4 linked regions of the Homo sapiens genome follow. The protein of the gene in region 1 interacts with the protein of each later gene in a pairwise test. Each region holds a gene or a part of one and is shown in the gene's direction. Other genes may lie near its edges.

What was found.
Region 2: the proteins of ACKR2 (region 1) and EFNA5 interact in binary tests that used the Homo sapiens proteins (3 or more experiments, as listed by UniProt).
Region 3: the proteins of ACKR2 (region 1) and SLC13A4 interact in binary tests that used the Homo sapiens proteins (3 or more experiments, as listed by UniProt).
Region 4: the proteins of ACKR2 (region 1) and TMEM167B interact in binary tests that used the Homo sapiens proteins (3 or more experiments, as listed by UniProt).

The regions. Positions count from the first base shown.
Region 1 is NC_000003.12:42,812,445-42,820,118, forward strand, and holds part of ACKR2 (atypical chemokine receptor 2), read left to right. Parts: intron 1-7,186; 5' UTR 7,187-7,267; intron 7,268-7,674.
Region 2 is NC_000005.10:107,667,264-107,675,124, reverse strand, and holds the start of EFNA5 (ephrin-A5 isoform 1 precursor), read left to right. Parts: upstream 1-4,187; 5' UTR 4,188-4,511; coding exon 4,512-4,636; intron 4,637-7,861. UniProt on the Homo sapiens protein: Cell surface GPI-bound ligand for Eph receptors, a family of receptor tyrosine kinases which are crucial for migration, repulsion and adhesion during neuronal, vascular and epithelial development.
Region 3 is NC_000007.14:135,718,051-135,725,724, reverse strand, and holds part of SLC13A4 (solute carrier family 13 member 4), read left to right. Parts: intron 1-4,201; coding exon 4,202-4,330; intron 4,331-7,674. UniProt on the Homo sapiens protein: Sodium:sulfate symporter that mediates sulfate reabsorption in the high endothelial venules (HEV).
Region 4 is NC_000001.11:109,086,509-109,094,343, forward strand, and holds the start of TMEM167B (protein kish-B isoform 1 precursor), read left to right. Parts: upstream 1-4,255; 5' UTR 4,256-4,364; coding exon 4,365-4,374; intron 4,375-5,151; exon of another isoform or gene 5,152-5,240; intron 5,241-6,381; coding exon 6,382-6,513; coding exon of another isoform or gene 6,514-6,574; intron 6,575-7,835. UniProt on the Homo sapiens protein: Involved in the early part of the secretory pathway.

The DNA.
Region 1 (7,674 bases):
AAAGCTCATCTAGTCCATTTCCTTTCTTTTAATGAAAATACAGTTTTTGAGAATGTAAGTGGATGTTTTAGATGACACACTTACAGGCAGAATCTGAATAACTCTGCCTTCCTGAGAACTAGCCCAGTGCTCTGTTTGCTTGCTTACCTCTCCAGGTCATGGAATCAGACCTCTTAGTATTCCATGCAGCTTAAAACTGAAAACCTTTAATAAAAGTGGTTGGGCAATTTTCAGCCTTTTTTTTTTTTTTTTTTTTTTTTGAGATGGAGTCTGACTCTGTTGCTCAGGCTGGAGTGCACTGGCATAATCTCATCTGACTTCAACCTCCACCTCCCAGGCTCAAGTGATCCTCTTGCCTCAGCCTCCTGAGTAGCTGGGACTACAGGCATGTGCCACCACATCCGGCTAATTTTTTTGTATTTTTAGTAGAGACAGGGTTTCACCTTTTTGGCCAAGCTGGTCTCAAAGTCCTGACCTCAAGTGATCCACCTGCCTCAGCCTCCCAAAGTGCTGGGATTACAGGCATGAGCCACTATGCCCGGCCTTCAGCTTTCTTTTGGTTCTAATCATATATGTGGTAAAGTGATTGATTTAGACAGTTATGTTAATGTGAACAGTGCTGTTAATGTTATTGAATTTGATTAAAATAAAGCTCCATAATTTATTTTATTTTATTTAGCATTAGGGCCTTTGGGACAAAATATGAATAACGAAAGCAAGATAATTTGCAAATAAGAATTAGTCCAAGAGCTATAGTATGTTTTGGGTTTGTTTTTGGGTTTGATTTTGATCTGTTTTTAAATAAGTATGTTATAGTATCTAATATTAACTTAAAATCTTGGTTCAGTTTGCCCTACATAATCTATTCTAAAAATATATGTATTGGTCTGTTCTCGCAATGCTAGAAAGAACTACCTGAGACTGGGTAATTTATAAAGAAAAGAGGTTTAATTGACTCACAGTTCTGCAAGTTGTATAGGAAGCATGGCTAAGGAGGCCTCAGGAAACTTAACAATCATGGTGGAAGATGAAGGGGAAGCAAACCTGTCTTATATGGTGGGATCAGGAGAAAGCAAGTGAAGGAAGAAGTGCTACACACTTTTAAACAACCAGGTCTTGTGAGAACTACTATAAGAGAACAGCAAGGAGAAAGTCCACCCCCGTGATCTAATCACCTCCTACCAGGCCCCTCCTCCAACACTGAGAATGACAATTTGACTTGAGATTTGGGTGGGGACACAAACCATATCATACAAATTCAAGAGTTTGTAACTTGGTACAATGTGCCTTTATTATTTTCTGCATCATGTGCATACTTCACTGGTTCACAGCATAAAGACTGAAAACTGCCATATTTATTAGGAAGTTGTATTTTGTTTTTCAAGCTCTGTTGAGGAATAGATGGAATTTGTTCCATGGTGAGCTGTTTTTAAGTTTTCGCAGTATCATTAATGACCCCAGTCTCATTCTGGGAAACTTGAATTCTCCTTGCAAATTCTAAGAAGTTCACACTTTACCCAAACTTAATGTAATAACGAGAGACAACATCTGTTTATGCCTAGTTATTTGAGGTTTTGTTGCCTGTTTGTGGGAGAAATTCTCTCCTTCTGATTAGTATGCAGAAACTAAAATCTTGGTGAATGATGGTGATAAATATCTGAAACATAATCAGATGATTCAGTCAATTTTTGGTGAAGATTATTCTGCTACACTTTATACCATATCATGTTACAAGAAAATGACAATGACACACTTACATCTTTCATAATACAGACATTATAATTGGTAACAAACATGCAACATCTATTATTCCATTCTTCGTATTGGGCGTCATTTTGAAGTATAATTGATGCAGAAGACTTAACACATTATTTGGGTTTTCAGGTATTAAACCAACCCACCTGTAATTTATAGAAAGAAAGGCAGCACAAAAAGTGTCTGCCAGCTTTGCTATTTTCCCCTCTTCAGAGAGCCTCTGTGACTTTTCATGCTGCAAATAGCTGTCTACACATGATCGTATCTTCCATAGGAGAAACAGGCTTCTAAATTCAGATGTCTGTTTATGCTGAGGCCCAACTAAAAGCTACATTACCTTGTTCTTGACATCCTTTTTAAAAAGTACTGTGTGATCTTTGTCGAACTTTGTTTAAACAAAGGTTAAACCTTTTGAGAAAATTGGTAATAATTACCGGTGTTTTTATACCAGATTTGGGAGTCACCATCAGCAATTATTGAATACGTACATTGTGCCAAGTACCTGTACTAGATTCTGAACTTAAAGACTCAGTCCCTGCCATGAAATAATTTATAATCTAAGTAGGTAGAAGGAACAAGTATATAGAAATAACAAAGACAGTTTATAAGTACTTTGAATGAAATTTCAGGTAGATATCACAGTAAGTGGAGCAGTTTCAAAGGCTTCTTGGGACTGGGGCTTAAGTGGGCCTTGAAGGATGACTAGGATGTAAATAAATTGGGAGGATATTTCAGAAACAGCAAACAGAGGGCAGAAGAATAGAGGCAGACTCTGGGATTGTAGCTGTGTCACAGAGGACAGCAAGTGTGAAAAGGCAAACATTTGTGACTAGAGCAGAGTCAGAGAGAATAATGAAAAGTGAGTCACTGTGGGGAGGACCTTCCATGTTAATTAAAGAACCTGGACAATGTTCTATTAGGTGCCGCCTGAAGACGTTGGAGCAGGATGTTGACAAGAGCAGAGGGCATTTGAGGTTATTGGAAGTGAAATAGAATGGATTAGAAAGGGAGTGTCAGCCTTAGCCAGAAAATTTAAAACTATTCAGTAATAACCCATTACATACTGTGTATTGAGACCATTTTCCCCTTGGTCTTAAGGATGTAGAGGTAGTTACATGCAGTAGTGTTATCTCTACTTCTTGACAAGGACTGCCACTTTGAGGCAGCAATAATCTTTAAAGACCAGTCCCCAGGGAGAATTGGCTAGGGGCCAGGCCATCAGAAGATTCCATGTCAGAAAATTGCCCTAACAGGCTATTCATAATGTGTTCCAATTTAGTACCCTTTACACTGCAGAGTCATGGAATAGTACTTAAGCTGTTCATTTTAGACAAAAATACACTTCCCAGACACATTAATTGCATGTTTCAAAGTTGTATTTAAAACTTGCCTAAAAGGTAGGAGCTTTTAAGTAAACAAAAAATTTTCTCTTGGCAAAAAGTAACCAGACTCTTCCTTGATCTGCTTATTCAAATCTATCAGGTGTTTTATAAGAAACACTAATATTTTTCCAGAAGGACCAGCTGGCATCATATCCGACCATGTTCTGCTAAGGTGACAATTTTTCTTTCTCACACTTTATGCATTCCAGAACATTAATTCTCAAGGGAGGTACCTGGTTCATTCCTCTACCCTTTAGGAAGAACAGCTCTAAAATGAAAGCTCAAAACTCTCCAGAGGGAGAAAAGTCACAGCCACTTTTAATTTGGTATGAGTCAGGCTCCACAGGCTCTGGGGTTTGCTTTGCTGCTTACTAGTTATGTGACACTGAGCAAGTTAATTAATCATCTTGTACCTCTGTTTCTTCATTTGTACAATAATAGGTCCTACTTAGTAGGACTCTGGGGAGTGTTAAATGATATATAAAACCCCAACATTAACTGGCATATAGTAAGTGTTATATGTGTTAATTGTTACGACATTCTGTGGGTTTTTTTGTGTGTTCCTGTAGATACTACTCAGCTAACCTATAAACACAATTGATAGTTTCGTGTGTGTGTGTGTGTGTGTGTGTGTGTGTGTACTTTGCATTTTAAAATGTCTTTTGGTTACTGAGGGTTTCCATAAAAATCATAAATATAAGATGCTCACCATCAATATGGTGTACTTCAGCAAAGAAGAAGCTAGGAGCTAGAAACCACCTTTGATCTCTTTAGTTTACATAGTGTCTTACCTTTTATATTGCTGGTTTCATCAACTGGTTCCCATTAGCAACCAAAGTGGCAGCAGGATTTGTGTGTTTATGTAGTGATAATTTTTGTAGTGAACAAAAATATTATACTTTAAATATTTTAGTCTTGAATTGACTTTTCCGCTGAGGAAACTCAGTGGAAAAAGTCAATGAACTGAGGCACTCAGTTCATTTTTTTTTTTTTTAAGGTAGAGTCTTGCTTTGTCACCCAGGCTGGAGTGCAGTGTGCAATCTCAGCTCACTGAAACCTCTGCCTCATGGGTTCAAGTAATTCTCATGCCTCAGCCTCCCGAGTAGCTGGGATTACAGGTGTTTGCCACCACACCTGGCTATTTTTTTCTATTTTTAGTAGAGACAGGGTTTCACCACGTTGGCCAGGCTGGTCTCAAACTCCTTACCTCAGGTGATCTGCCCACCTCAGCCTCCCAAAGTGCTGGGATTACAGACGTGAGCCACCATGCCTGTCTAGCACTCAGTATTTTTTATTGCTGTTGGGGACAGCAGGACACTTAACAAGTACTAATGAAAAAAAAATTTGGTAGAGTGGAAAAGGCACTGGCTTTGGGCCCCTGGATTGCTACCAGGCCTGAAGTCAAAAGACACGGCTTTGAATAACAGCTTAAATGCTTATGGACATTATGACCTTGAACACGTTATTTAGCCTCACATTTTTCATCAACACAATGGGGATACTAGTAAGTATATGCCTTATAGGATAGCATTGTGTGATCTAAGTGACCATACATAAGGCACCAAGAAGAGTGCTTGGGATGTAATAGAGCCTCAGTACATGTTAGATCCTCTCACCAAACCAGGCCCCTTCCTCTTGCTGCTATCTTCTTAAGCATTAACCAGCAATGCAACCTCAAGCAAGTCACTTTTCTTTTTTAGACCGTGAAGTTTTCTGACCCCTTCTCTAAATCAATTCTCTCATTTATTCTTGTTCAGCCTCGACTTCCATTCCCCTGATATCCCCACTAACCGTTTTCACAGAGAGCATTGAAAAATTCTCTCAGCTTCCTCCTCTCTTACCCTACCTGCGTCTCCATCAGTCGTTTCTTCTGGTTTTGGGTACCCTCCTCCCACTGAACACCCATCAAACCCTATGCTCTGGATTCCATCATTTTTTGCCATTGAATCTGTCAGCTTTTTGCTCTCTCACCTGTAATTTCAGCCTCTCCTCGCCCCTGCATCCAGGCTTCTCATACTCTTCCATTTAAAAAAGATTCCTTCCTAGATTCTTCATCCTTTCTCCAGCTATTGCTCTCTTTTCTTTCTCCTCAGTTTAGGAGAAAAAAGTGTACATATCATCCCACATCTTCCCCCCAACCCAGCTCTCTCAACCCACTGGTTTCCATTCTTGTCACGCTACTGAAACAACAATAGTAAAGGACATAATTCAATGGACATATTTCAGTTTCTCAGCCCATATCTTACTTGACTCTTCTATCATATTTGACATTATGAATCTTCCATTGACACTCTTCTTCTCATTCTCCTTCCAGTCTGGTCATTCTTTCTTAGTTACAGTGACTGAATTTATTTCCTGTGTCCCTTAAATATTGGTGTGCTCTAGGGTTCTGTGCTCTCTTTCCTTCTTACTCTCTGCCCTTCTCTTAGAGTAATCTCATGTACTTTTATGGTTTTTTATTCTCATCTGTATGCTGATGTTCTTTTCTCTCCTCTGTCTGCCACACTTCTTGCCTGTGTTCCAGAGCTATCTATTCAACTGTGTTGGACGTCTTCACTTTGGTATTCCACAGACTCCATGTGTCCATAAATGAGCCGTGTTAACCATCTCTCTCCTCCCCTCTTCTCTGCTCTCTACATCTCTCTCCGCACAAGCCTGCACTTTCTCCTAAATTCCCTGACGTGTTTGATGGAACAACTGTCCATCCCATTCACCAAACATGAAAGCTGGGTCAATCCCTGATGCCACTTCCTCCTTTCTTCACATCCAGCCAGTGACATCTGAGCAGAGAACTGAATGACCAGGGGTCAGCTCTATGAAGATCTAGGGGAAGAGCTACAGCAGACATGAGACTGAGTTTTCACTTTCATAGTGATGTGCTCTGAGCAAACTGGCCCAGAATTGGCTGCTTCCTACAAGCAGTAATGTTGAGAGGATCATTTACACAGGAAAGCACTTAAACAGATCAAATAAGGAAAGACATTGGCATAATTTTTTTGAGACGGAGTCTCACTCTGTCACCCAGGCTAGAGTGCAGTGGCGCGATCTCGGCTCACTGCAACCTCCATCTCTCGGGTTCAAGCAATTCTCCTGTCTCTGCCTCCAGAGTAGCTGTGATTACAGGCAAGTGCCACCACACCCAGCTAATTTTTGTATTTTTAGTAGCGACAAGGTTTCGCCATGTTGATCAGACTGGTCTTGAACTCCTGACCTCAGGTGATCTGCCCGGCTCGGCCTCCTAAAGTGTTGGGATTACAGATGTGAGCCACCATACCTGGCCCATAGATTGTTTTTACTGACAACATTTTCAAACAAAATGCTGTCAGGTTGTCACTAAAAAATGGATCTTGGATTCTTTGCAGCTCCTCAAATTCCTTTTTGTTCTTTCTGTTAGTTCTTTGCTGGGGTGTTGGTGGGGGAAATGGGGGGCAGGTGGGATGGTGGGCACAGAATTTTCCTGACTAAGCCGAAGCTCTCCTGCCTCTTTTACTTGTTCTGAAGACTTTTGAATTTGAGATTAACAACACAACCATCACCTCTTAAAAGTCTGTATAACTTTATCTTGCATATATTTTGTTATTAAATATGTCTTTTAGTAGAGAATGAGTAGGAAGACTTTGGTCTTTATAATATTCAGTTTTATGTGGGTTATATCCTGATTTTTAAAGTTAGAAACTCATAATTTTATGTAATTCTATGTAACTAAAAAGATTGATTTGTTTTTATAATCTATATTTGTATAAGTATGGGACTAGATTACACAAAACAACATTGATCACTGGAACTAAGAGCTTTCTTTTGACCACAGGCAAACAGCTCTTTCCAGTAGAAAAGAGCTGGGCTCCCTCACTGTTTCCTGGCTCTTTCCAGTAGAAAAGAGCTGGGCTCCCTCACTGTTTCCTGGCTCTTTCCAGTAGAAAAGAGCTGGGCTCCCTCACTGTTTCCTGGCACACGGTATGATATTGAGTTCCATGATTATGCATGTACCTTGGGTTACAACCCCCCTGGCGGCAGAACCTCTATTGTGTCCTTCTTTGTATTGCCCACAGAGCCTGTTGGTGACCTGCACACAGGAGCCCTCCAGTCAGTACTGATTGAATTACTCAAGGCTGCCTCTCTGCAAAGTTGAGGTAAGCAGCTGAGTTCAATGATGCTGGCTGCATTTTCAGCTATTGGGGCTGCAGTAGCTAGGCAGGGGCTGCAGGCCCTTCTGGCTTTTTAGCCCTCCTGCTCACCCACCATTTACACAGTCTTCCTTTCAGAGCCCCCCTTTCTCCTCCTGCACTTCCTTGAATATTGACTGCCTCTCTGATTTCCCTCACTTTGTCTCTCCCAAATATTAGGGCTGTTTTTATGGTCTGCTAATTCTGTGAGAATGAGGTACCTCTTCTGGGAGGCACTGCCACACTCAATGGCACTGCAAACAGGTTTTTATTGGCTCATCTCCAAGCTCTCCAAGTCATTCTGCCCTCATACTGATTATGAGACACCATCTGTTTATCTTGATTGCATAATAAATTGAGGACTCATAAATGTA
Region 2 (7,861 bases), on another chromosome or scaffold:
TTTGGTGATGTTTTTGTGACCGGAGATATGCATAGGAATTTAACTCTTGTTTGTATCAAGTAGCCTATGGTGAAATTGTTTTCCTTATATATGCCACTTCGCTTAAAGTCACAATTTCCAAGAACATATCCCTGACATTAAGGACTTACTGTATCTATCATCCTGCTGACTAGTAACTTCCATACCAATAATTACTTAGGCACATAATCCCAGAGTCATTTGATTTAGGTTTATGAATTGTTTCACATAGACATTTGAGTTATGTTATGAACAGCCGCGAATTTCAACATCTTATTCCAATCTTATGAATCACTTTATGGAAGAGGACAATGTATACTTTTTTTTCTGTTTAATATGGGACTATTCAAACTTTAAATAGTAGAGATATTTAAATATAAGGACATCCATATTTTTGTGATATAATTGAATTTTCCCATTTGGTTATTGTATGTGTTTCAAACGGGAAATGAGTGGATACCATTTCTTTTTCTTCACCTTTTTTTCAGCTTTGATGCCACAGGAAGCCAGCTTGCTAGCTCCCTGTTACCTGATAGTTCCCTGACTAAAAAGACTCTTCAGTGAGGATCAGCATTTTACCCTAGACAGGAGTCGTGAATTTTCTTTTTAAAGATACACATATCTCTTAAAAGGGTCCAGAATATTTCCTGCAAAACTGTCTCTGTCATATGAGCACCTATTAGAGCCACTATAAGAAAAGCTAAGGAAACAAATCCATCTTTCCTGCAACAGAAAAAACACACACCCTAAAATGGGCCAAGAACTTGAACATCAGCAAGATTACAGACCAGGGAAAAAAGCAAATAACATTTTAACTGAAAATTTGATTTGAAAAATAAAAGCTTATCCATTGGTTCTCTCACTTCTTTCCCCACTTCTTTCTCACTGCTGGAACTTTGTGAAACATACAGATGATGGAGGAGCATTTGTGTCGACATTCTGAATTTCAATTTTTAATAATTAGGCAGATGGTTGGTTTGTGGTAAAGTCCATTATTGTACAGATTGCAATTTGTATCTAGTCACAAAATATAAGTTACTTTCCTAGGACGATTTCAGGATCTTTTCAGATAGGAAATATTACTGTAATTGAAAAACGACTTAACTTTTAGCCAAGAGCCCATAACATCCAGGTACCTCCGTGCCCCTATGAACTGTTTCTTTTCCTCTCGAGTCTTTATTGGTCATAGCCCTAGATTTCCCATCAAATTCAACCCGGCCTGAGCGGCAGGCAATGCCCCTGCTGGGTGCGGATTGCAGGCCCACCACTGGAGGGCGTCTGGACGCTTCTAAACAGCTCTGAAGCGCCTGGAAATCCCGTCTGAGGACTGGAAAGCGCAGGAGGGTGAACGTGAGATTTGATTTTATTGGGCTAATAAGTAAAAAGGAGTGCAGGCAGGTGTGGGAGCAAAAGTAAACTGCCTTTTTTCTCCTGGGGATCTGCCCTTCCCACTAAGGCAGAAAACTCCCTAGGGAACATGAGAAAAAATACCGCTGCTCCCGAGCCCGCGGACCCCTTAAGGGCGGGTCTCGGGGGCCTGTGGCCCCGCAGAGCAGGCGTCGGGCTCACTTCCTGGGCGCTGGACGACAGTGGGGACGCGTCCCGAGGCGCTGGGACAGTCTCGCTGCCAGGAGATCGCTCTTCAGTGGCGGCTGAAGACCAGGCTTGCAACCTGCCCTTGAAGTCCAGGACCGAGGGGCCTTTTCCAACAATAAAGGAACTGCTTTTCTTCCCACAGCCCCCGCCCCCGGCCCTCATTTCTTTCCGCACCGGGTTCGATAAAGGCGTTTATTCTTTGGGGAGTGGGCAGCAAATCACCCTCAAGGTTGAAATGGAAGAGGTGTGAGGTTATTTCTGAAGGGCTCGTCTGCCGCATTCATTTCCTCTCTGTGGAAGGTTCGCGCTGAATTGTAATCACTTTAAACTGTGATTTGCCTGATTTTTAAAAACGTGTTTTCAGAGCATCACTTTAAAGAAAACTTGCTTCCTGCCCAAGAATCTTTAAATCCCAAGTGGGAAGAGGAGGGCTGAAAGGCACAGGAGGGGTGCTCAGACTTCCAGATAACCCAGCGCCAGGCAGCGTGCGGCGTGGAGAGCGGGTGGAATGGACAGGAACGCGCACTCCCTGAGGCTCCGTTCCAGCCCATCCGTCACCTGCGGGGCACCAGAGACAGATGCCGGCTCTCCAGCCAAAGGGTGGGCACAGGTTCCTTTAAAATCGAAAGACCCTACTCCCAGGTAAAAAGATGTCAAATCATTCCTTAGCCCAGACGGAATTCAGCACCCAAAGGGTTACACGTGGCTGCCGGGCTCCGGCGCAGGAGAGGGCGCCTCGGCACTCCCAGTAATTCAATTAGTCAGGTTTCTAGAAGGTGGGGCGGGGGAGGGGGTAGGAGGCGTGGGGAAGGGAGATTAGGAAAACGCCTCTTTCTCGTGGAGCAAACCAATCCGGTTGGAGTAAAGAGAGAGGAAAAACCCCCAATCTGTAAGCAAACAGTAGGCCGTTCCCTGACTGGTTGCTCCAGCTATCCCCCCACCGCGCTCCCACCCTTCCCAAGTAAACTGCTTGGAAGGAGGAAAAAAAAAAAAAAAAAAAAAAAGACAGTCCACATGACCCGGGCCGCAGCGGCAGCAGCGCTGGCTGGGCGCGGGCTGGCGGCACCTCCCCCTGCTTCGTCCGGAGCTCACACCCGCGCTCGCGCCGCCCGCCCGTCCCGCGTCCCGCGCAACACGCCCGGGCGGAGCCCCATCCCCCCGCCCACGTCCACGTTCACGCGTGCGGCCTCGCGCTCTGCTGAGGCTGCTGCCACTGGGTCGCCGCCGCTGTCGGCTTTCCACGCAAGTCATTAACGAGGGGGCGTGCCCGAGGAGATTTTTTTTCCCATAAAGCATTTTTTCTCTCGCTCTCTTTTTTTCCCCCTCTTTTGCAAAACTGACTTTTACAAAACCCTTTCCACTTCTTGCCAGTCGTTTCAATTCCTCCTGGGCTGCTCGTGCTGCTGCTGCTGCACTCAAGTTTATTTATTTTCCCGCCTGGGTAGGGGTTTTAGGATTCGGTTTGTGGTTTTCACCTCTGTTGCTGCTGTGCCTAAGGAGGGAAAGAGGAGCAGCTGCGGGAGGATCGGGAAGGTTTTCTGATGTAGTCATCGGGGAGGTGCCACTCGCTCGTGCGCTTTTTTTTTTTCCTCTTTTCCCATTTCAAACTGATTGATGCATCTCTACAAGTTGCTAGGCTTGGACCCGCTGGAGTCGCAGGGACACTTCTGAGAGCTCACCCCGGGCTCTTGGCACCGCGTGTGGGGGCTCAGTCTCCCTCTCGGAAGGCGATCGGAGACTGACATCGGCCCATCCAGGAGTTGGAGGGATCCATTTGAAAGTGATTGTTTCCCCTCCCGCTCTCCAGCCGAACAGTTGGGTTGGCGTCGTCTTGCAGGTTTAGGAATCCCAGCTCTGCCAGGCCGGCTGGTCTTAACCTCTGCTCTTCATTCACTGTGGTGCACCCACACCCAGCCAAGGAAAGCACGCGCGAGAAATCCCCGAGGCTCGGCCAGCCCCCGGGGTGCCCTCTTCCGCTACCGCCGCGTTCCGACTCTGCTGGGGGACCTGCCGGAAGACGCGAAGAGCCAAACTTTTCTTTGAGGTTTTCGAGGCAAGACCGCTTCGAAAGCCGGCGCAGCTGCCGCTTAACCAGTTCCAGGACACCGACAAGGCTGGGTTGCGGCTCCGGATCCCCACCCTTCTCGGCGCACCGCCCGGTACCGCAGCACTTACGACTCCTCTGAGATTTCTGGGGGTCGCCCCGCTAAGGCACAGAGGAGGCTGAGGAAAGGGGTTCTCAGACTCCCGGGACCACAAGCGCGAAGCCCTCTATCAGCACGTCGCCCTTCTCCTGCAGTTTCCCACCGGCCGCCAAAGTAACTTGGAGCGAAGCGTGGCGCAGTGCGAGGGCCCCGGGCGGTGGCGGAGCCGTGCGTAGCCTGCTGCGCCGACGCTGAGCCGGGCCCGGCGGGCCGGTGTATGTCTCCCCGCGGCTGCGGCGCGCAACTCCCGGTGACTGTGCAGCGCGCGCCGCCGCCTGCCCCGACCCGCGCTGCAGCCGCCCGGCCCGGCGCGCACCTCCCTCTCCCGGGGTGACCGGCCTGCCGCCGCCGCCCGAGACACAGCTTGGCACCTCTTCCCCCGCCCTCGCCGCCGCCACCACACACACGCACGCTTCTCTCCATCTTGTGATTCCTTTTTCCTCCTGAACCCTCCAGTGGGGGTGCGAGTTTGTCTTTATCACCCCCCATCCCACCGCCTTCTTTTCTTCTCGCTCTCCTACCCCTCCCCAGCTTGGTGGGCGCCTCTTTCCTTTCTCGCCCACTTTCATTTTTATTTATTCATATTTATTTGGCGCCCGCTCTCTCTCTGTCCCTTTGCCTGCCTCCCTCCCTCCGGATCCCCGCTCTCTCCCCGGAGTGGCGCGTCGGGGGCTCCGCCGCTGGCCAGGCGTGATGTTGCACGTGGAGATGTTGACGCTGGTGTTTCTGGTGCTCTGGATGTGTGTGTTCAGCCAGGACCCGGGCTCCAAGGCCGTCGCCGACCGCTACGCTGTCTACTGGAACAGCAGCAACCCCAGGTAAGCCGATAACAGGCGGAGAGCCAGGGCTACCCGGGCCTCGGGGCCCTGCGGAAGGAGCGGCGGCGGGGATCGGCGCGCACCAACCGCTGGCGGCGCGCACCCTCGGAGCCTGCGTCGCCCGGGCGCTGATGGCTTGAGGCGTCGGCGGGAAGCGCTCGCGTCGCGCCCCTCTTTGTTAAGCCGCCGCGGAAAGGCCAGGTACCCCTGGGAGTCCCCGGGGCTGCCTAGACCAACTGCTTCTGCGGGGCGCCGGGAGACTCGGAAAAGGGCGGGAGCCGGGGAGTAGGGACTTCTCTGCTTCCCAGCCCCGGCATCTGGCTGGCATCCGGTTCCCGGCGCGGGGAGCCCCCAGTGTGCGCAGCCGGGAGCTCCTTCCTGGAGCGTGGGTCCGCAGGGACTGCGGAGAGAACCCGCCAAACATCCCCCAAAGTTTTTTTTTTTTTTTTTTTTTTTTTAATTTTAATTTTCCCTTCTCTTTTCCCGGTGCGCGCAGAGAGAGCGCACGGGCTGGGGGAAGTGAGGGGGGCTGGGAAGCGGAAGCTTTAGGTTTTTATTTTCCTCTTCAACTGCGAGGAAATCATTCGGCCCCTGAGTCAGTCTGGGCCCGGCGCGCCTGGCAGTGGAGAGGATTCTCCCATCTTCTCCATCCCTCCACCCACCCCAGTGGGTTCAAGGTGCCAGAAAGTTTGATCTAATGCCGGGTTACGTCATGTGTGCAGAACAAGCTGCCAGAGTTGGCCGAGCCAGGAGGTGGGAGCCCTTCGCCCGCGGCCTGGCGATGTGCTGCCGGAGGAACGCGCGCGATTACCTGGAACCGATTTGTAGGCGTCCCGAAGCCCGCCGGGTATGCGGGAGACTAGAGGTGGGCGCCGGGGGCGGTCCTAGTGCGCGTGCTGGACACCGGCCAGTCGCAGACGTCCCGTGTTTTCGGACCCTGGAAGTGGAGTGGGGAGGTTATCCAGAGTGCCCGGCGGGGTCCTCCGGGTCTGGAGCAGTTCCGAACCTTTATTGCTTCCCGGCCTGTGCACAGAAGTCGGCCCCGCTAGGCCCATACCGCACTGCTTTCTCTGGGACAGAGGCTAGCTTCCAGCTGTGTGCCGGTCTCGGTGCCCTCCTAGGTGCTATTTATTAATAGTACCGATTGCATCTAAAGTCACAGGTTTTTCACTGGGCTGGAGTGGAAGTTGGGAAGAGAGAGGCGGGAGGCCGAGGGGTTAGCCTAAGAGTTGGTGCGCGCCCCGGGCTCCAGGAGAGAGGGTATCGGTGGGCGCCTCCAGTTTTTTCTATCTCCTGCGGGCCCTCTCCGCCTGCCTCCAGCCTCCCCTCAGCATGCAGGCAAGAGAGGGATTCCCTGCTTGAATAATGTCAGCGCAGATGAAGATGGGAAGATTTCCCCACAAGCAGTCCGCCGGTTACAGAACCAGGAGGGAGTTCCCCCTATCCCGCTAGTCCAAGATAGTCTTACTCAGGTAGCCGCCCAAGTCCTAAATGAACCGCTGAACAGGAGTGGAGATATTCCTGAAAGTTTGGTTCAAAAAACAAGAGTCTCCTGGAGGTGGGTGGTGGAATGGGAAGCGATTTCTTCTTTGACATGCCACTTACCACTATTAGGAAAAGAGAAAAAGAAGCCATCCTGCCAGAGGAGAGATGCCTTTTATTAAAGCTGACAAGACAAATAGAGCAAGCTTTCCAGTTGTGATGGTGTTAAAAGCCAGTCTCATTATGTTGGTTAGTTTTTTTTCCCCGTTTGTGCTTTATTAGGCAGCATATACGAAGCAGAAATTTGTATCTCTGAACTTTAGCACCTTATTAAATAAAGCAACACTGAAATAGTTTCTTTGAATTTGGGATATCTTGCTCTCGGTTGTCTTTTCTTTCCCACACCAAGCTCCACATTGTGATCTTTTTCTCATGGCATTCATTTATTTGGATACTTGGGTGTTCCAGTCTTCCTGGGTTAAAACGGAAAGAACCAGCAACACCCCTACTTTAACCCCCCTTCTTAACCTGTCAAGCTAGTCTGAGTTAGTTTGAGGACATTTTATCTTAGGTTATCTCTGTTTTGTGCTTTTGATACTGTTGTTTGGTTTGAGATTAGCACATTGATTTTTGTCACAGGTCATGTTTTTTAATAGATCTGCCCTGCCTGCAGAAAACTCTTCTGCTCAGGATGCCATGGAGGCTTTGAACCTGCCCAGACAAAGTTAATCTGCAGAATTTTAAAATACCAAGAGTATTTCTAAATCGGTATTCTAACTTCAGGTTTGTAGAATTACCTTTCTATTTGATCATTATCAGTTTGATAATGGCCAAAAGAAAGAATGATGTACCCCTCTTAACCCCAAGAGATACAGCCCTAACACTTATTATTCTTAGGAATTTATGGACACATTTATCTTGGTATGTTATCACAGTTAAAAACTTACTTTAAAAACAATATTTTAAAAGTAGGCAGTTTTATCTCTGAAGTGTTGAATAAGATGTTGCTCTTTTGATGCATTAAGAAAAGTCAACTTGGATATAAGAGGCCACATGCCAAATAAGTATTTTAAAAATAAAAACTAACAGTTTTCCACAAACAATAGTAAGAAAATATTTCAGAAAATTTCCACGGGTTTAGTAAATTTTATAAATTCACTGTTGTGCAATTCCTTTTCCTGTATGTTATTTCATAAAGTAAGCTAGCCATGCTTTGTGTCTTTATATAGAACCTATCTGTTAAAATTTTGCTAAACTAGTAAGACTTCAATCTTTTGAAAAAAGAATAGAGGACTTTAATTGCAACTTAAATAATTTTTTTTATTTTTCCCTCAGAATATAATATGTTCAGTGGGCACGTTAAACTGATGATAATGTACACTGTGTCTAAACGAAGTAAATCTACTTTAGCTTATACTAACAGATTCAATTTGAAATTATGTTTAGGTAAAATCAGAATTAAATGTATCTTGATCACAGGGATTAAGTACAGTATCTTACTGTGTAACTTGTGTCACTTGTGTATCTGGTAGGAGTTTATCTTCTACATGGAGTTTCATTACTGCCTCTCCATTGATAAATGAGCATCTATAGATGTAGTTTCACGGGAAAAAATATTAAATTTATTTGCTGTCAGAATAGTTTTACTGTTACAATCTATGTACCCAGGTATTCACTTCTGAGAAGTGGATACTGAGTTTTCAAATGCTGATAACTTTTAGTTGGTAGTATTTATTGGATAGG
Region 3 (7,674 bases), on another chromosome or scaffold:
TGTTGAGATTACAGGTGTGAGCCACCGTGCCTGGCCTGCATCAAACTTTTAGAGTCTGATATTTAACCCTTAAAATTCCAAATGGATTTTCTTGCTCTGGACTGGAGTTGAGAGCAGTGATGGAGTACCTGGGCAGGAGCTCCTGGCCTGCAGTTTTGATGGTTCTAAGCGACAAGCCTCAGCTACATTTTAGGAGGAGTCAAAATGACCTTCCCCCTTTTTCTTGCCCAACTCTCTAAAACTAGAGGTCCAGACACTGTTTATCATGTTATAGAAGAAGAGGGTACAAGAGACAGCATCCATAACTAAGCCCTTCCTCAGTGCCCCCAGTGGGATAAAAGTTGCATCTCAACTGCCCAAGCTAAATTTTTTAAAAGGCGCCCCCAGTCATTGATGATAACAGATAACAGACTTCAACCTCCTTCCCGTGAAGTTGGAGTGGGATATCACTGGGGTGGTCAAACTGCGTGGAAAACGAGCAGTTCCACGCCTAAGTGAGTAGCTGACTAGGAAACGTCCTACATGGGGAAATGCCACTTTCGAACTCTTTCCTTTACTTGTAAACGGGAGCCAAAAAATAGTAGATAGCATGTCCCTTGAAGATATTGTCTGAACACTCACCAATGCCCAACCCCCACATACCTGCTATTATAAGGAACCAGTGGTGTTGTTAAAGAGCCTGGGGGTTGCAGAATATTCTCTCCAGAAGATGAGCGAGACCTGACAGCCAGCAGAGAAGTCCAGTGCAGTTCAGCCCACGTGAATTGAACCACCTGCTAGACATGGGATAGGCGTTGGGGACATCGGACTCCTTGTAAGCAAACTTTGCAGTATTTTTGGTTGTCTGAATACAAGCTTACCTCCTGAATTTTGGGAAGCTTTAGAAGGGGAAAAATGAAGTTTATGGAGATTCCATGGGTGAAATAAGTGGAAACTGTATGGAAAGACTCTCTAAAGGTGTCTCTTGTCCATTCTTCTACTCTAAGGAAAATCCAGGTAAAAAATGATAGTAATTAATCCTGTCCTTAATACAGCTGGGTGAAGGTGGCCTGATGACTTACTTCTTCCAGTAACCTAGTCGCATGTCTAACAATATTTACAACCAAAATGTTTGCTTTATTTTACCCACATTCTCCTAATTGAAAACTAAAGGCACCTGGCAGAGGGAAAGTCCTCTTTCTTTCTCTCTCTCTCCTTTCTTCTTTTTTTTTTTTTTTTTTTTTTCTGAGACAGAGTCTCACTCTGTCACTCAGGCTCTGGAGTGCAGTGGCACAACCTTGGCTCACTGCAACCTCTGCCTCCCGGGTTCAAGGGATTCTCCTGCCTCAGCCTCCAGAGCAGCTAGGATTACAGGCATGTGCCACCACACCTGGATGAATTTTTTGTATTTTTAATAGAGACAGGGTTTCGCCATGTTGGCCAGGCTGGTCTCGAACTCCTGACCTCAACTGATCCACCCACCTCGGCCTCCCATAGTGCTGGGATTACAGGCTCTTTTCCTCTTTCTCCTTTCCCTTTCTCTGCACCTTCTCTCCCCACCTCCTTCCCCTTAACTTGTAACTTGTAGCCCTGTAATGACCAGATCAAGAAAGACTAAGGGTTCCAGGAAGAAATAAGGGTCCCCAGTGAGGGGCAGACATTTTGTCTCTCAACTCTTTCTCTTCAACTGGAGTTAAGATCTGCCACTCTGTCTCTTTCCCAGAAGAGAGATGAGAACACGTGGGTTTGAACTCCTTTAGGTAGTTTTATTTCTATAGCAAACAGGGTATTTCTCTAAATTGAATTTGTTTCCAAGTGGAGCCTCTTTTTTTTTCCACCATTGGTTCTGTTGTCTTATCAGCACTTCCAAAAGTTTTATCTTCCCTCTGATCTTTTGGCCCCAGAGAACATCTCAGTGGGGAGCTACAGTCAACTTTTGGGCCCAGTTCCCATTTCTCAAACCCCAATCCCATAATCCACGAATGTCAGGAGGGCACAAGGTCCTTGCCAGCCCAGCTGATTTAATCACTCCTGCTGCCCCTTACTGATACAGCGACCTTTTGTAACTTTTATGCAAGAGTTTGAGGACGCGTGTTCTGAACTCAAGGGGCCATAAACAGCAAGATTTGTCAGGTTCCTTGATCAGCAGCCAGCCTCAGGGCAAATCAGACACGAGTCCTGATGGTTTACAACTATGTAAAAATTGAGGATCCCACAGCCAACTTGGATTTTCTATAAATGCTCTTCTGAGTCACGGAGCTTGGTGATGTTACCATTAACAAGGCCCATGAACTGCAGCCTCTCCCTAGAGTAAGGCGGTAACCTGTCTTAACAGCGTTCATCAGCATAATTCAGGGCAATCAACACAACTAGAGGGCAAGCTGATGGAGGGCTGGCTTCTGATAAGAATGTTGTACTTAATTACCCTGTGCACCCCTAGGTTGTCCAGCCAGCAAAGTGAGTGGGCTATGGAAAATGCTGGTGAATGTCCAGGCCTCCCCTTCCAGATAGATGGCTGTCTTCAGTCTTTGTAGATGGATGTTTCCATGGTGTCAAGCGGATAGAATGGAGTCCAAGAGCAACGAGAACCAGACCCTGGTTAGGGCAGTGGCTCTCAACCAGGAATCATTTTACCTCCCCAAGGGACATTTGGCAATGTCTAGAGATGGTTTTTTGCTTGTCACAGTGGAGGAAGTGCTACCGGCATTTAGTGGGTAGAGACCAGGGATGCTGCTCTTTTACAGTGCACAGGACAGCCCCCCTGCAAGAAGAAACTATGTGGCCCTAAATGTCAGTAGTACGAAGGTTGACAAACACTGAGTTAGGAGCTGATGCTTCTTCATCCAAAATGAGAGTTCCATGCTCAGGATCGCTGCCTTCCTCTTCAGTCTTCCCTTCCCTCTCCCAGGGAAGGGAGCTCCTTATTAACTCTTACAGGGGCCTTTGGGAGAAGGATTCAGTCTCTAGATGCAAAACATGGTAGGACCTCAGATCCAAAATTGAAGGGGGAAATGGTCAACCAGTTCTTCAAGTTGCCTAATAATTTATTTGATTAAAATTTACTACTGAATCAAGTTGTTTCAGCAAATAGTCTAAAACAGGGGGATTTAACTTTGTTTATTCATTTTTAAAGCAATAAAGCTTTTTTTTTTTCAAATCTCACATGTAATGTTCGTATATGAATCAAATGAGAACAAAGCTACTCCATTTGGGATGAGGCTGGAGAGGGGGTCCAGATTCCAGGCCTTGCTGATCCCCCTGGTATATTCTTGAGACACACCCCAGATGCCCAGGGCTGTAAGAGCACAGTCCAGAAGCCACCTTTTGGATTGTTTATAAATCTCACTTCTTACTGATCCACTTCTCTTCAGTCAGGCACACACCAATGCCACATATCTTCATATCTTAGGCACATGTGTCAAACTCAGGATGACTGATCTCAGAGCTCACATGTGAACGAACTGTTTTTTTTGTTTGTTTGCTTGTTTTTTTGAGACAGCATTGTACTCTATAGTCCTGTAGTCCAAGCTGGAGTGCAATGGCATATGATCATAGCTCACTGCAGCCTGAAGCCCCTGGGCTCAAGTGATCCTCTGGCATCAGCCTCCCAAGTAGCTGGGACTACAGGCCTGTGCCACCACACCTGGCTAATTTATATTTTATTTTTTAGAGATGGGGTCTTGCTATATATTGCCCAGGCTGGTCTCAAACTCCTGGGCTCAAGTGATCCTCCCACCTTGGCCTCCCAAAGTCCTGGGATTACAAGTGCAAGCCCCAGCCCCCACCACACATAGTGATTCCTATCTCCAACTACCCCAAGAACTTCTAATATCCAGTCAACTTAACACCAATTACATCCCAGTCCAAGTTAAAGCTTTGAACTCCACTTGTATGGTTTTGTGATCATGGGTCTGGTCACTGCAGTTAAGTTCAGTCCCCACCTTGGCAGTTTCCAGAACCCTCCGAGCTGCCTGGCTACACACCAGTGCAAACCACACGCCAGGCATCGGTCCCCGAAGGAGCAGCCATAATGTCACCCACCAAAGGATGGACTCACCATGTATTCACCATGCTCGCCTGCCAGTTCGGTTTCGGTCCCTGGGCTGTATCCTAGTACCCGCGTTACAGTCTGAGTCTGCTGCCTCAGATGCCAGGGTTGCATCCGGACGCTCAGTGGCAGTGACTATTCCTGTGAATGACGGCCCCTTTCCTTGCCTTGCAGGAGGCCTCGTGTGCTTACGTGCTGATCGTGACTGCTGTGTACTGGGTGTCGGAGGCAGTGCCTCTGGGAGCTGCAGCCCTGGTGCCGGCCTTCCTTTACCCGTTCTTCGGAGTCCTCCGGTCCAATGAGGTTAGACTACTTGTAGCCCCACCCCCTGCCTGGGTCCCTGCAGGGCCCCTGAAAGAGAGCCTCCAATGAAGGGAGATTCACCCAGCACTTGACGATGAGGGGGCCTTGTCACCCACTGGAATGACCCCTTAACACTAAGCTTTGGCACCTGCAGTTCTAGACCCTGAATTCCTCTCCTTCCACCCATGATCCTCATCTCCTTCAAACTGGCTCAAAATTTGCCTCTTTCAGGAAGCCTTACTTGATTAAACACATCCAGTTGCTCCCTCGGTCTGAAGCCTTTTAGGAGCTGTGTGATTGATGCCTAAAACTCAGCTGCTGTTGACCTTTTTCAGACTCTGGATGTCTATTTAGACGATAAGCACACAAAGGCAGGAATCAGACCTCCCATTAGAAAGCTGAGCCTGTACACAGTAGGTGCTCAATGAATGTTTGTTACAGAGAGACTTACCCTATTTCCCTGAACCCTGACAATGTTTTCATCCACGCCTCCAAAAAACAACATTTCTTTTTCTTCTCGCCCGACTTAAGGTTACTTTCTTTCTTTGCGCCCTCCCTAGAGTGAGCCCTCTCCATTCACTGTCTGTGGCCTTCTCAAAAGCTCAAACAGAAATTGTCAGTGGGAAGCCCAGGTTGTGGCAAAATTTCAGAGCAAAGTTTAAGCCTGCCATGAGTAGGGAAAAAGAAAAAACAAAACAAAACAAAACAGCCAGAACCTGGGACCAAATGAATGACGATCTCATTCAGTAACACCTGGTTCCATTCAACTGTCTCATTATTAACACCTGGTCTCTGCTTAGGGTTTTTGTTTTGTTTTTGGTTTTTTTTTTTTTTTTTTTTAATGAAAAAGCCTGAATCACTGAGATGGGGGTAAGGTTATGGGCAGAGGCACAGAAAGAAGAGGAAAGGAAGCTCATATTTGAATGCCTACTAAGCGCCAGGCACTCTATCAGAAGTGCTGCATTTGTTATGTAATACTCCCAAGGGCTGTACAAGGCGCATGCTAGTATTTCCATTTTACAGATAGGCTCAGAGAATTAAGAGACTCAGCCCAAATCACAAAGCTGAAAGTAGCAGAATTAGATTCAAACCCGTAACTATTAGAATTCAAAGTGTATACACTTGATCACTACACCATAAGAAAAAGACTCCATAAAGTGGTATGTGGCTTCATGGCACTATGTACACATGGAGTTATTACTTAGAACTGTGAGTCTCTTCACTTCTGTGATATGAGGAAGAATGGAGCGGGGCCTATGGATGCTTTAATGGACAACAGAACTTTCCAAAAATAGAATTAGGCAATCCTCTAATAGTTGTACTTCACTGCAAATGAACACTTTGTCTTTCTACTGGATAGATTTAACTGACTAGTTTTTTGTTTGCTTTTAGGTTCCTTTTCTTTCTTTCTCTCTCTTTCTCTCTCTCTCTCTCTCTCCCCCCAACTCCCTCCCCTGTCTCTCTCCCCCTGGGCCCGTCTCTCTCTCTCTCCTCTCTCTCTCTCTTTCCTTCCTCTTTCTATCTATCTATCTGTACACACATATATATATGCGTGTGTGTGGCTATACACACACACACACACACACACACATACACACACACACACACACACATGTGGCATTGAGTAGCCATAGCCTCAGGCTCACCAAAAAGAAGAGAATCCCCAAAGCTCTCAGCAGTGCTTTCATTCCTGGAGATGGGTACAACCCCAATATCGTGGGGACCCATGTAAAAGCTAATCTGTGACCAGAATCACCAGGCAGTTGTTCTAATTGCCCCCTCTTCTTTCGTGAAAAAAGAATAGGTAATATGGGGTTTTGTGTCTGCCTAAAGAAAAAAGCAACCTAAATGTGACTTTTCTTAAGAGAGCTATACAAGCTTGTTCTCCAGGCTTCTCTTTAAAATTGTGAAATTAAAACCAGCAAGGGCAGGGCTTGAAAGTGGAGGGTAGAGGAAAAAAAATGATGTTTAGAAAGAACTGAATCCTAAATAACCTTTTAAAGTGAGAAAACTATTAATTAAGAAACCTAATCTTTGTATTTCACTATAGGCAGCCCAAAAGCCAACAGCATGCCTTAGCTTTCAAGCAGACAGTGTCTCTGTTTCTCCAAGGGCACAGTAGAGATGTTGCCAGGCAACAGTTATCCGAGGGACGCCCCTTTGTCCAGAGAGGAAGGCCAAACCCGTAAGGAGAGTCTGCAGAGGCAGTCGCTTGGGAGGGTAACAGGACTCTGTGAGAAATAAAGGAAGACTGTCCAGGGAGGGACTGTGTGTCACTATTGCTAGGGGCTGGAGGAGCCAGAAAGCACGTCTTATCATTTGAGGTGAAAAATCCGAATCCACCTGCCTGATGACGTGGCTTTGGCTGATGATGATATTTAGTAGTTGGGCTACAGGGAGCAGCTTAGTCCAAATATAGTCTGTTTAGCTGACCTTCTTAGCTCAGATTAGAGGGAAATGCCAGTAAGGCAGAGCACATGGGTTATAGCCCTTTGTAAGCCAGTTAACTTTGCAGAGAAAACACCTATTCCACAACCACCTATGCACCACTATGACACCAGAATGTGCCATGGCTCACAGGGGGAAGCTAGGCTGGTGCTCTTTAGGAGCCCCCAAATCCTTGTCATTTCCCAAACCCATCTACTTCTTGACCATCCTCTTACTGCGACTTGGGTTATTCTTCCACTTTGGAAAGTTCTCTCCCGTTCTTTGACCTTTAAAGTCCTACTCAATTACTCTCTTTGGTGAAGCCCTTCCAATGACCAAAGGCTGAAAGTGTTGATCCCTTCTCAATGAGCCTATTTCATGTCTTTATCTTTTAAATGGTGCATCAGATACACCAGATATAAACTTTTCATAGACATGTGCTCTCCCCACCGAGATTCATGCTCTCTGGGATGTACAATGTCTATGTCTATGGCCTGTCTGTAGCCCAGCACCATGTTTGCATCAGCCCTCATTCACAGCTCTTGATTGCAGTGTTTCTTGACAATGTGTCAGTAATGTCATCTTCAGTGAGGGAAGGAAGGCACGTGAATAGGATCAGTGTGACTCTGGGACTGTGGCTGGGTTCCCTCATGTTATTCATTCAACATTTAGAGACAGTATTTTCTCAGTTCTACATCTACCAGGTGCAACATGGGATGATATGGGTACCCTGAGGGTGACAAAAATAAACAAAATGTCATCTCTCCCCTCTTGAATCTCGTATCTGAGCTCTCACTGTCTGAAGCTGGATATGTTCTGCAGTTTCTCCAGAGAAACAGAACGAAGAGGAGACTAGCGCGCACGCGTGCGCGCGCGCGCGTGTGTGTGTGTGTGTGTAGGAATTGGCTCACTTGATT
Region 4 (7,835 bases), on another chromosome or scaffold:
TTTGCCACTGGGTGTGGTGGCTCACGCCTGTAATCCCAGCACTTTGGAAGGCCGAGGCGGGCGGATCACGAGGTCAGGAGTTCAAGACCAGCCTGGCCAACGTAGTGAAACCCCATCTCTACTAAAAATACAAAACTTAGCCGGACACGATGGCGCATGCCTGTAGTTCCAGCTACTCCGGAGGAGAGGCAGAAGAATTGCTTGAACCCAGGAAGCAGAGGTTGCAGTGAGCAGTGATTGCACCACTGCACTCCAGCTTGGGCAACAGAGTGAGACTTTGTCTCAAAAAAAAAAAATTGTAATTTGCCAATTCATCACTCCTCCTGGTTTTTCAGCTTTGATTTCATCCTTAATTTTTTTTTTCTGTTTATGAGACACAGTCTTGCTCTGTCTCCCAGGCTGGAGTGCAGTGGCGTGATCTCAGCTTAATGCAACCTCTGCCTCCCCGGTTCAAGTGATTATCCTGCCTCAGCATCCCGAGTAGCTGGGATTACAGACAGACACCACCACACCCAGCTAATTGTTGTATTTTTAGTAAAGACAGGGTTTCACGATGTTGCCAGGCTGGTCTCCAACTCCTGACCCCAAGTGATCCACCTGTCTCGGTCTCCCAAAGTGCTGGGATTACAGGTGTGAGCCACCATGCCCAGCCTTTACATTTTATTCTTTTTTTTTTTTTTTTTGAGAGGGAGTCTCACTCTGTTGTCCAGGCTGGAGTACAGTGGCACAATCTCGGCTCACTGCAACCTTCGCCTCCCAGTCTGAAGCGATTCTCCCTCCTGCCTTAGCCACCTGAGTAGCTGGGATTGGAGGCTCACGCCCCCATGCCCGGCTAATTTTTGTGTTTTTAGTTTTGTGTTTTTAGACAAGGTTTCACCATGTTGGCCAGGCTGGTCTTGAACTCCTGACCTCAGGTGATCTGCCCACCTTGGCCTCCCAAAGTGCTGGGATTACAGGCGTGAGTCATTGCGCCCGGGCTTAACTTTTTTTTTTTTTTTTTTTTTTTTTTTTTTTTGTGGTGGAGTCTCACTCTGTTGCCCAGGCTGGAGTGCAATGGCACAATCTCGGCTCACTGCAATATCCGTCTCCCAGGTTCAAGTGATTCTTTCGCCTCAGCTTCCTGAGTAGCTGGGATTACAGGCACCTGCCACCACTCCCGGCTAATTTTTTTGAATTTTTAGTAGACACGGGGTTTCACCATGCTGGCCAGGCTGGTCTCGAACTCCCGACCTCAGGTGATCCTCCCGCCTCGGCCTCCCAAAGTGTTGAGATTACAGGCGTGAGCCCCTGCGCCCAGCTGATTAACTTTTATTCTAACCTCTGAGAATGACAGAAGAGGAAAGACTTGTCTTTCAGAGTATGACAAAAACTGAAGAGGTTTTCATCTAGTTAAAAAAAAATGGGGAGAAAAAATTATCTCTAAAAAGTGAGTGGCATGAGCAAAAATGAGAAAGCAAAGACTGTAACTGAAGAACATAGTCTTTATAGACAAAGCTTAAAGCCCATATAGGGAACAGTGGAAAATACTATTGGAAGGCCTTGAGTAGCAGGCTAAGGACTTAGGCATTATTCAGTAGGTAGTGGTTGCTGTCAAAGGAAACACCAGTGTGGTATGGAGGAAAATTTTCTAGTCCTGATTTCAGAAGGCTGGAATTATTGTGCCAGTGTAATACTTGGCAGTCCTTACCCTAAACCTTGGTTTATTTCTAAAACAGGGGTAATCAGGCAGTTGTGAGGGTTAAATAAGATCATATGACAAGGTGTGTTTGCTTTGAAAATGTCAAAATGTTATAAAAATGTAAGTTTTCATTGTTGTGAGGACATAATTGATACTTAAAGACTACCGATATAGCAAAATTACTAAGGTGATGGCTGTAGGATTACAAGAGGGGCAATTTTTTTTCTTTTCTTTGTTTTTTTTGAGACGTAGTTTCACTGTTGCCCAGGCTAGCGTGCTATGGCAGGATCTCAGCTCACCGCAACCTCTGCCTCCCCAGTTCAAGCGATTCTCCTGCCTCAGCCTCCCAAGTAGCTGGGATTACAGGCATGTGCCACCATGCCCGGCTACTTTTGTATTTTTAGTAGAGACGGGGTTTCTCCATGTTGGTCAGGCTGGTCTCGAACTCCCGACCTCAGGTGATCCGCCCACCTCGGCCTCCCAAAGTGCTGGAATTACAGGCGTGAGCAACCGCGCCCGGCCAAAGGGGGGCAGTTATTATTATTATTATTATTATTTGAAATGGAGTCTCGCTCTGTCGCCCAGGCTGGAGGGCAGTGGTGCTGTCTCGGCTCACTGCAACCTCTCCCTCCCGGGTTCAAGCTATTCTCCTGCCTCTGCCTTCCGAGTAGCTGGGATTACAGGCGCACGCCACCATGCCAGGCTAATTTCTGTATTTCTTTTTTTCTTTTTTCTTTTTTTTTTTTTAAGTAGAGACGGGGTTTCACCATGTGGTCAGGGTGGTCTTGAACTCCTGACCTCAGGTAATCCGCCTGCCTCGGCCTCCCAAAGTGCTGGGATTACAGGCGTGAGCCGCGCCCGGCCAGCTGCTGCTGTTTTAGACAATGGTTGATGAAGGATTCGAAGGCCTAAACAATAGAGCTTTTGTTCTGTTTTGTTTTTGAGTGGTCCTGAACAGTTCTTTTGGGCAGGGGAATTTGTCTGTGTGTGAATGTGCAAACATATATATAATCTGAGTGGCTGCCTGGCCTTGTCCTAGGTTTTGTCCCGTATATACGCCGTCTTTTTTTTTTTTTCTTTCTGCATGTATGTATATTTTCTCAAGGCATCTGTCCTGCACTAGACTTTGGCTTGTCTTTCCAGGCCAGCTTCCAGAGGATGCTTTGGCAGTTTTCCCTCTGGGTAACCAAGCAGGCTGCAGCCAGCAGATGGCACTGCAGCAGAAAGGGGCAGAGTCCCTTTAGGCCCTTGACAAGCACGGCGGATTAGTAACCGTATAATTTAACCCTCCAGTTAGCCTTGGAGGACTCGGTGTCGCACTTCCGCCCGAACTCTAATAAAGCGGGCCGAGTTGTGTGCAATTAAGGATTTCAGTATGCAAATCTGAATCTGTACTTTTGTCTCCTCCACCCCACCCCCATCATTAGACTGGCAATGTCTTTTGTCACGTTGTCAAAGTGTCCTCAGAGAAGCGGTGTCTAGATATCGCCGATTTCTGGTTAAAGTGGCTGAAGTGATCCCAGCATTAATTAAATGCAGGAGAATCGAGATTCTCCTGATAGTTTAAGGAAAAGAAAAATTCACACAAGCAAACGGGCAACCCTTTGAATGTTTTCCGACGACGTGGTGCTTTAGGATCTGAAAGATGCGACTTGGTTTTTGTTGTTGTTGTTGTTGTTGTTGTTGTTTTTGAGACGGAGTTTCCGCTCTTGTTGCCCAGGCTGGAGTGCAATGGCGCGATCTCGGCTCACCGCAACCTCCGCCTCCCAGGTTCAAGCGATTCTCCTGCCTCGGCCTCCCGAGTAGCTGGGATTACATTACAGGCATGAGCCACCATGCCCGGCTAATTTTGTATTTGTAGTAGAGACGGGGTTTCTCCATGTTGGTCAGGCTGGTCTCGAACTACGATCTCAGGTGATCCGCCTGCCTCGGCCTCCTAAAGTGCTTAGATTACAGGCATGAGCCACCGCGCCCGGCTAATTTTGTATGTTTAGTAGAGACGGGGTTTCTCCTTGTTGGTCAGGCTGGTCTCGAACTCCGACCTCAGGTGATCCGCCTGGCTCGGCCTCCCAAAGTGCTGGGATTACAGGCGTGAACCACCGCGCCCGGCCGCGACTTGTTTTTGTTACAAGGTTCCTCATTTCATTTGCAACGTTCAGACGCAGTCTGACTAGATTTCCATCCGGAGTAAGGAAGAGCAGCTCAAGGGCAGTCACGGAGGCCGCAGGTGCGGCTTCTTCACCCGCGGTGCTGGAGTTCTCTCAAGTGGAAGCCCAGGACGATGAAAACCTCATAGGTAGGCTGCTGCTTACACACAGCAGCCGCCACGGCGCAAAATAAACTACAAAACTACAAGCCTTTACCTTTTCAAACACACTGACGCGGGCCAGCCCCAGCCCTACGCCCGCAGGGGCACGCAGAAAAGACTTAGTTACCACGGCCAAGTACGAAGCCTTCGAGATAGCGTTCTTCTTACCCTACGTAAACACGCAGTTTCCCGAGCTCGACAATCGGCTAGCCACTCCTGATAGCGTTCGGCGCTCGCCTCTCGGCCCTTGCTCCTGCGTACTACGGCTTCTTCCAGTCACCTCGGCCCGGATCGGGAAGTGTCAAGCGGGCGCTCCCCCATCTCCGCCGCTATTACCACTGAACCCGGACCCCCTACCCAGGTCCAGGGCCAGCCGCCATGACGAACGGTGAGAACTGATGCCCTGAGCGGAGGGTGGGAGTGAAGGACGAAGGGAAAACGTGGCGGGCGGGGCCGGGACTGACGTGGCCGTTCTCCCCGCCCCCTCCCAGCCCGGCCCCCCTTGGCCTCTCGACGCCCCTAACTTCTGTACCCCTATACTCCTCTACGGGTTCCCCCTTCCCATATTCATCTAGGACCCCCAGTGCCTCTTATGCTCACACCTCGAGTTATCTATCCCTATGCTTTGCTTTCCCTTTTCTTTTTCTTAGTTCTTTCTGGCCCTTGGAGAGGTCAGTCCCAGAGGTACTACTGCTATTTAAACCCGGGGAAGAGAGAGGCTCCTCCTCCCAGCTCCCTGCGTTCTCATGCTTTCGGACCGTAGTTTTGTTGAGAGGGCCAATAAATGACATAGAATATCAAGTCCCACACTTTTGGGGTTGCTGGTGAATGTAGACCCCACAAAAGCTTCTTCTTACGGAAAAATACCGGAAAGATTTCTGATTTTAAAGTCCTGGCGGGGTGATCCCACGTGGAGACCCTGACTAGTGTTGCAAAGGGTGGATTTAGACACTGCCTCTTCTAGATGATGAGGCAGTTTATCTGACCTAATTTTCCAGGCCTCTTCAAACACTTTATGAATTCTGAATTCCAGAGGAGGACAGGAAGGAGGGCCTTCATGATTTTTAGTGTCAACCTTACAGGAAAGGAGAAGAGAAAGCCTTTTAGGCATTACGATGATTTGAGGGGCTCCGGAAAGCATTTCTCAAAAGTACTTTGTCCATAGACCTGGCACTGAAGACTCGAATTTAACCTCCTTGTGAATTTTGGCATTGTCTGCAGAAACTTATGAGAGAAAAGGGGTAGCACGTGAAGGTATAGTTCCTCAGAAAACCTTAGTGTATGTATTAATTTGCTGGACCCTTTCTTAGTGACAGCTTAGCTGTGAGACAGTTTTACTGGAGGAAGAGAGGTAGTGTGATCTAGAACTGGCAGACACTGGTTATATATAATATTCATTTGGAGCTTCCTGGGAAGTCAGAGGTCTCAGGATACTAGGCACAGTAAGAAAAGGGAATTTACCCAGAGGAAGACAGAATCTGAACCAGGAAGTAAGACAGCAGTTTGACACGGTAGTTGCTGAATAAATTTTAGTCATTCTTCCCCCATTTTGTGGTCCAATATCTTCTTGTTTTTTGCAATTAGGTGATTCATTGTGCTTCCCTGTACAAGAAATAAGCTTGGTTTATGTATTTAAGAAACAGAGCTAAGAAGTTAAAGCTTTCTATGTTGAAGCCTTAGATACTTTTTCTTTGTTTTAGAAAAATCTGTTATTATTCTGGCAGAAATTCGGTTTGTTAAGAGTATCATCCATAAAGTGTAAGATAATGATAGGAAAATTGTAGTCATGTGGATTCTTACTCTTGCAACTTTCATTAAGCTTAATTTTTTGCCTTAACATATTCTTCACCAACAGTTGCACATCTGACAGTTTTGGCTACATATCTAGCTCTCCTTTATCATATGAGTGATTTATAACAAGAACATGTTAAATTCTCTGTGCTGAGTCTCTAAGGATTCATATGTCTCAATCTATTGCCAACACTAGTCATTCCTGGGATGCTAATTTCTGCCCAGGATTTCTACTTCTTGAAAGGTGAGGGGAAGGACCAGTGACATTTTAGTAAAGGGGATGTAAAAAAAAAAATTTTTTTTTGAGTTGGGGTCTCACTCTGTTGCTCAGGCTACAGTGCAGTGGCATGATCGTAGTTCATTGCAGCCTCGAACTCCTGGGCTCAATTGATCCCCCTTCCTCCTACAAGCAATTTTTGGGAACAGTAAAATAATCGTGTTAGTCCCAGGATCCTGGCTCCCCCTTGTCAAGTGTCAGTACTGCCTGTTGAGGTTATTATTTTGTTATTATGTCACACACTATCTTCCTTAGAGTTCTCAGGCGGGATCACAGGTCCGACGCTAGATCAGTACCTAAGGTTTTCTTTTCTTCTTTATTTAACAGTGTACTCCTTGGATGGGATTCTGGTGTTTGGTTTGCTCTTTGTTTGCACCTGTGCCTACTTCAAGAAAGTACCTCGTCTCAAAACCTGGCTGCTATCAGAGAAGAAGGGTGTTTGGGGTGTGTTTTACAAAGGTGAGGCCATGTCTGGACAGGGAGAAGAGACTGCCATCTCTGGACAGTGTGGAGCTACAAAGTAGGGAGTACAGTGAGCTGGGATTATATTTGGTTTCATTTTTAGAAAAAAATCCCTCCGATTGGGTCTGAGAGTCTGGAAAATTAATCATTCTCCAAAGTTGAGGGAAGAGGTAAAAGTTAAAATTTGCTGGGTGTGATGGCTCATGCCTATAATCTCAGCACTTTGGGGGGCCAAGGCAGGAGGATTGCTTGTGTCCAGGAGTTGTAGATCAGCCCGGGCAACACAGTGAGACCCCATTTCTACAAAATATACAAAAATTAGCCAGGTATGGTGGCACGTGCCTGTAGTCCCAGTTACTCAGGAGACTGAGGTGGGAGGATTGCTTGAGCCTAGGAGGTTGAGGCTGCAGTGAGCCATGGTGGAGCCACTGCACTCCAGCCCAGGTGACAGGGTGAGACCCTGTCTCAAAAAAAAAAAAAATTATTTAAAAACATAATTGTCTATTTTAGCATCCAGATGATTTTTGTATTCTCCATGGAGTAAAAGTATACACATCAAATCATTTTAGGCTGGGGTGGAATTCCTCCCTTCAGTGGGAAAAAAATTTTTCTACGGAAAATTTTTCTTGATTTTCTGTAAATGGTACATTGGAGTCTGTTTTAAGGTTTGAGTTAATTAACTCAGATGCTTTTTTGTACTTTTTATTTGAGGCACATTCATTTGGAATCCTATCTACCTAAATTTTTTTTTGAAAAAGGACAAAATATAAACAAACAGTATATTCACCTAGACCCTAAAGCATAAGGATAGCATTTAGAAACATCTCAGAGGCCGGATGCGGTGGCTCATGCCTGTAATCCCAACACTTTGGGAGGCCGAGGAGGGCAGATCACCCAAGGTCAGGAGTTCGAGACCAGCCTGGCCAACATGGTGAAACCCTGTCTCTACTAAAAATACAAAAATTAGCCAGGGAGCCGGGCACGGTGGCTCACGCCTGTAATTCCAGCACTTTAGGAGGCCAAGGTGGGTGGATCACCTGAGGTCAAGAGTTCAAGACCAGCCTGGCCAAGATGGTGAAACCCCATCTCTACTAAAAATACAAAAATTAGCTGGGCATGGTGGCAGGCGCCTGTAATCTCAGCTACTCAAGAGGCTGAGGCAGGAGAATTGCTTGAACCCGGGTGGCAGAGGTTGCAGTGAGCCGAGATCGCGCCACTGCACTCCAGCCTGGCCGACAGAGTGAGACTGCCTCCAAAAATAAAATAAAAACATCCCAGGCCCTTGAGAGCGTTGATATGTCTGTCTGTGACTAGAGACT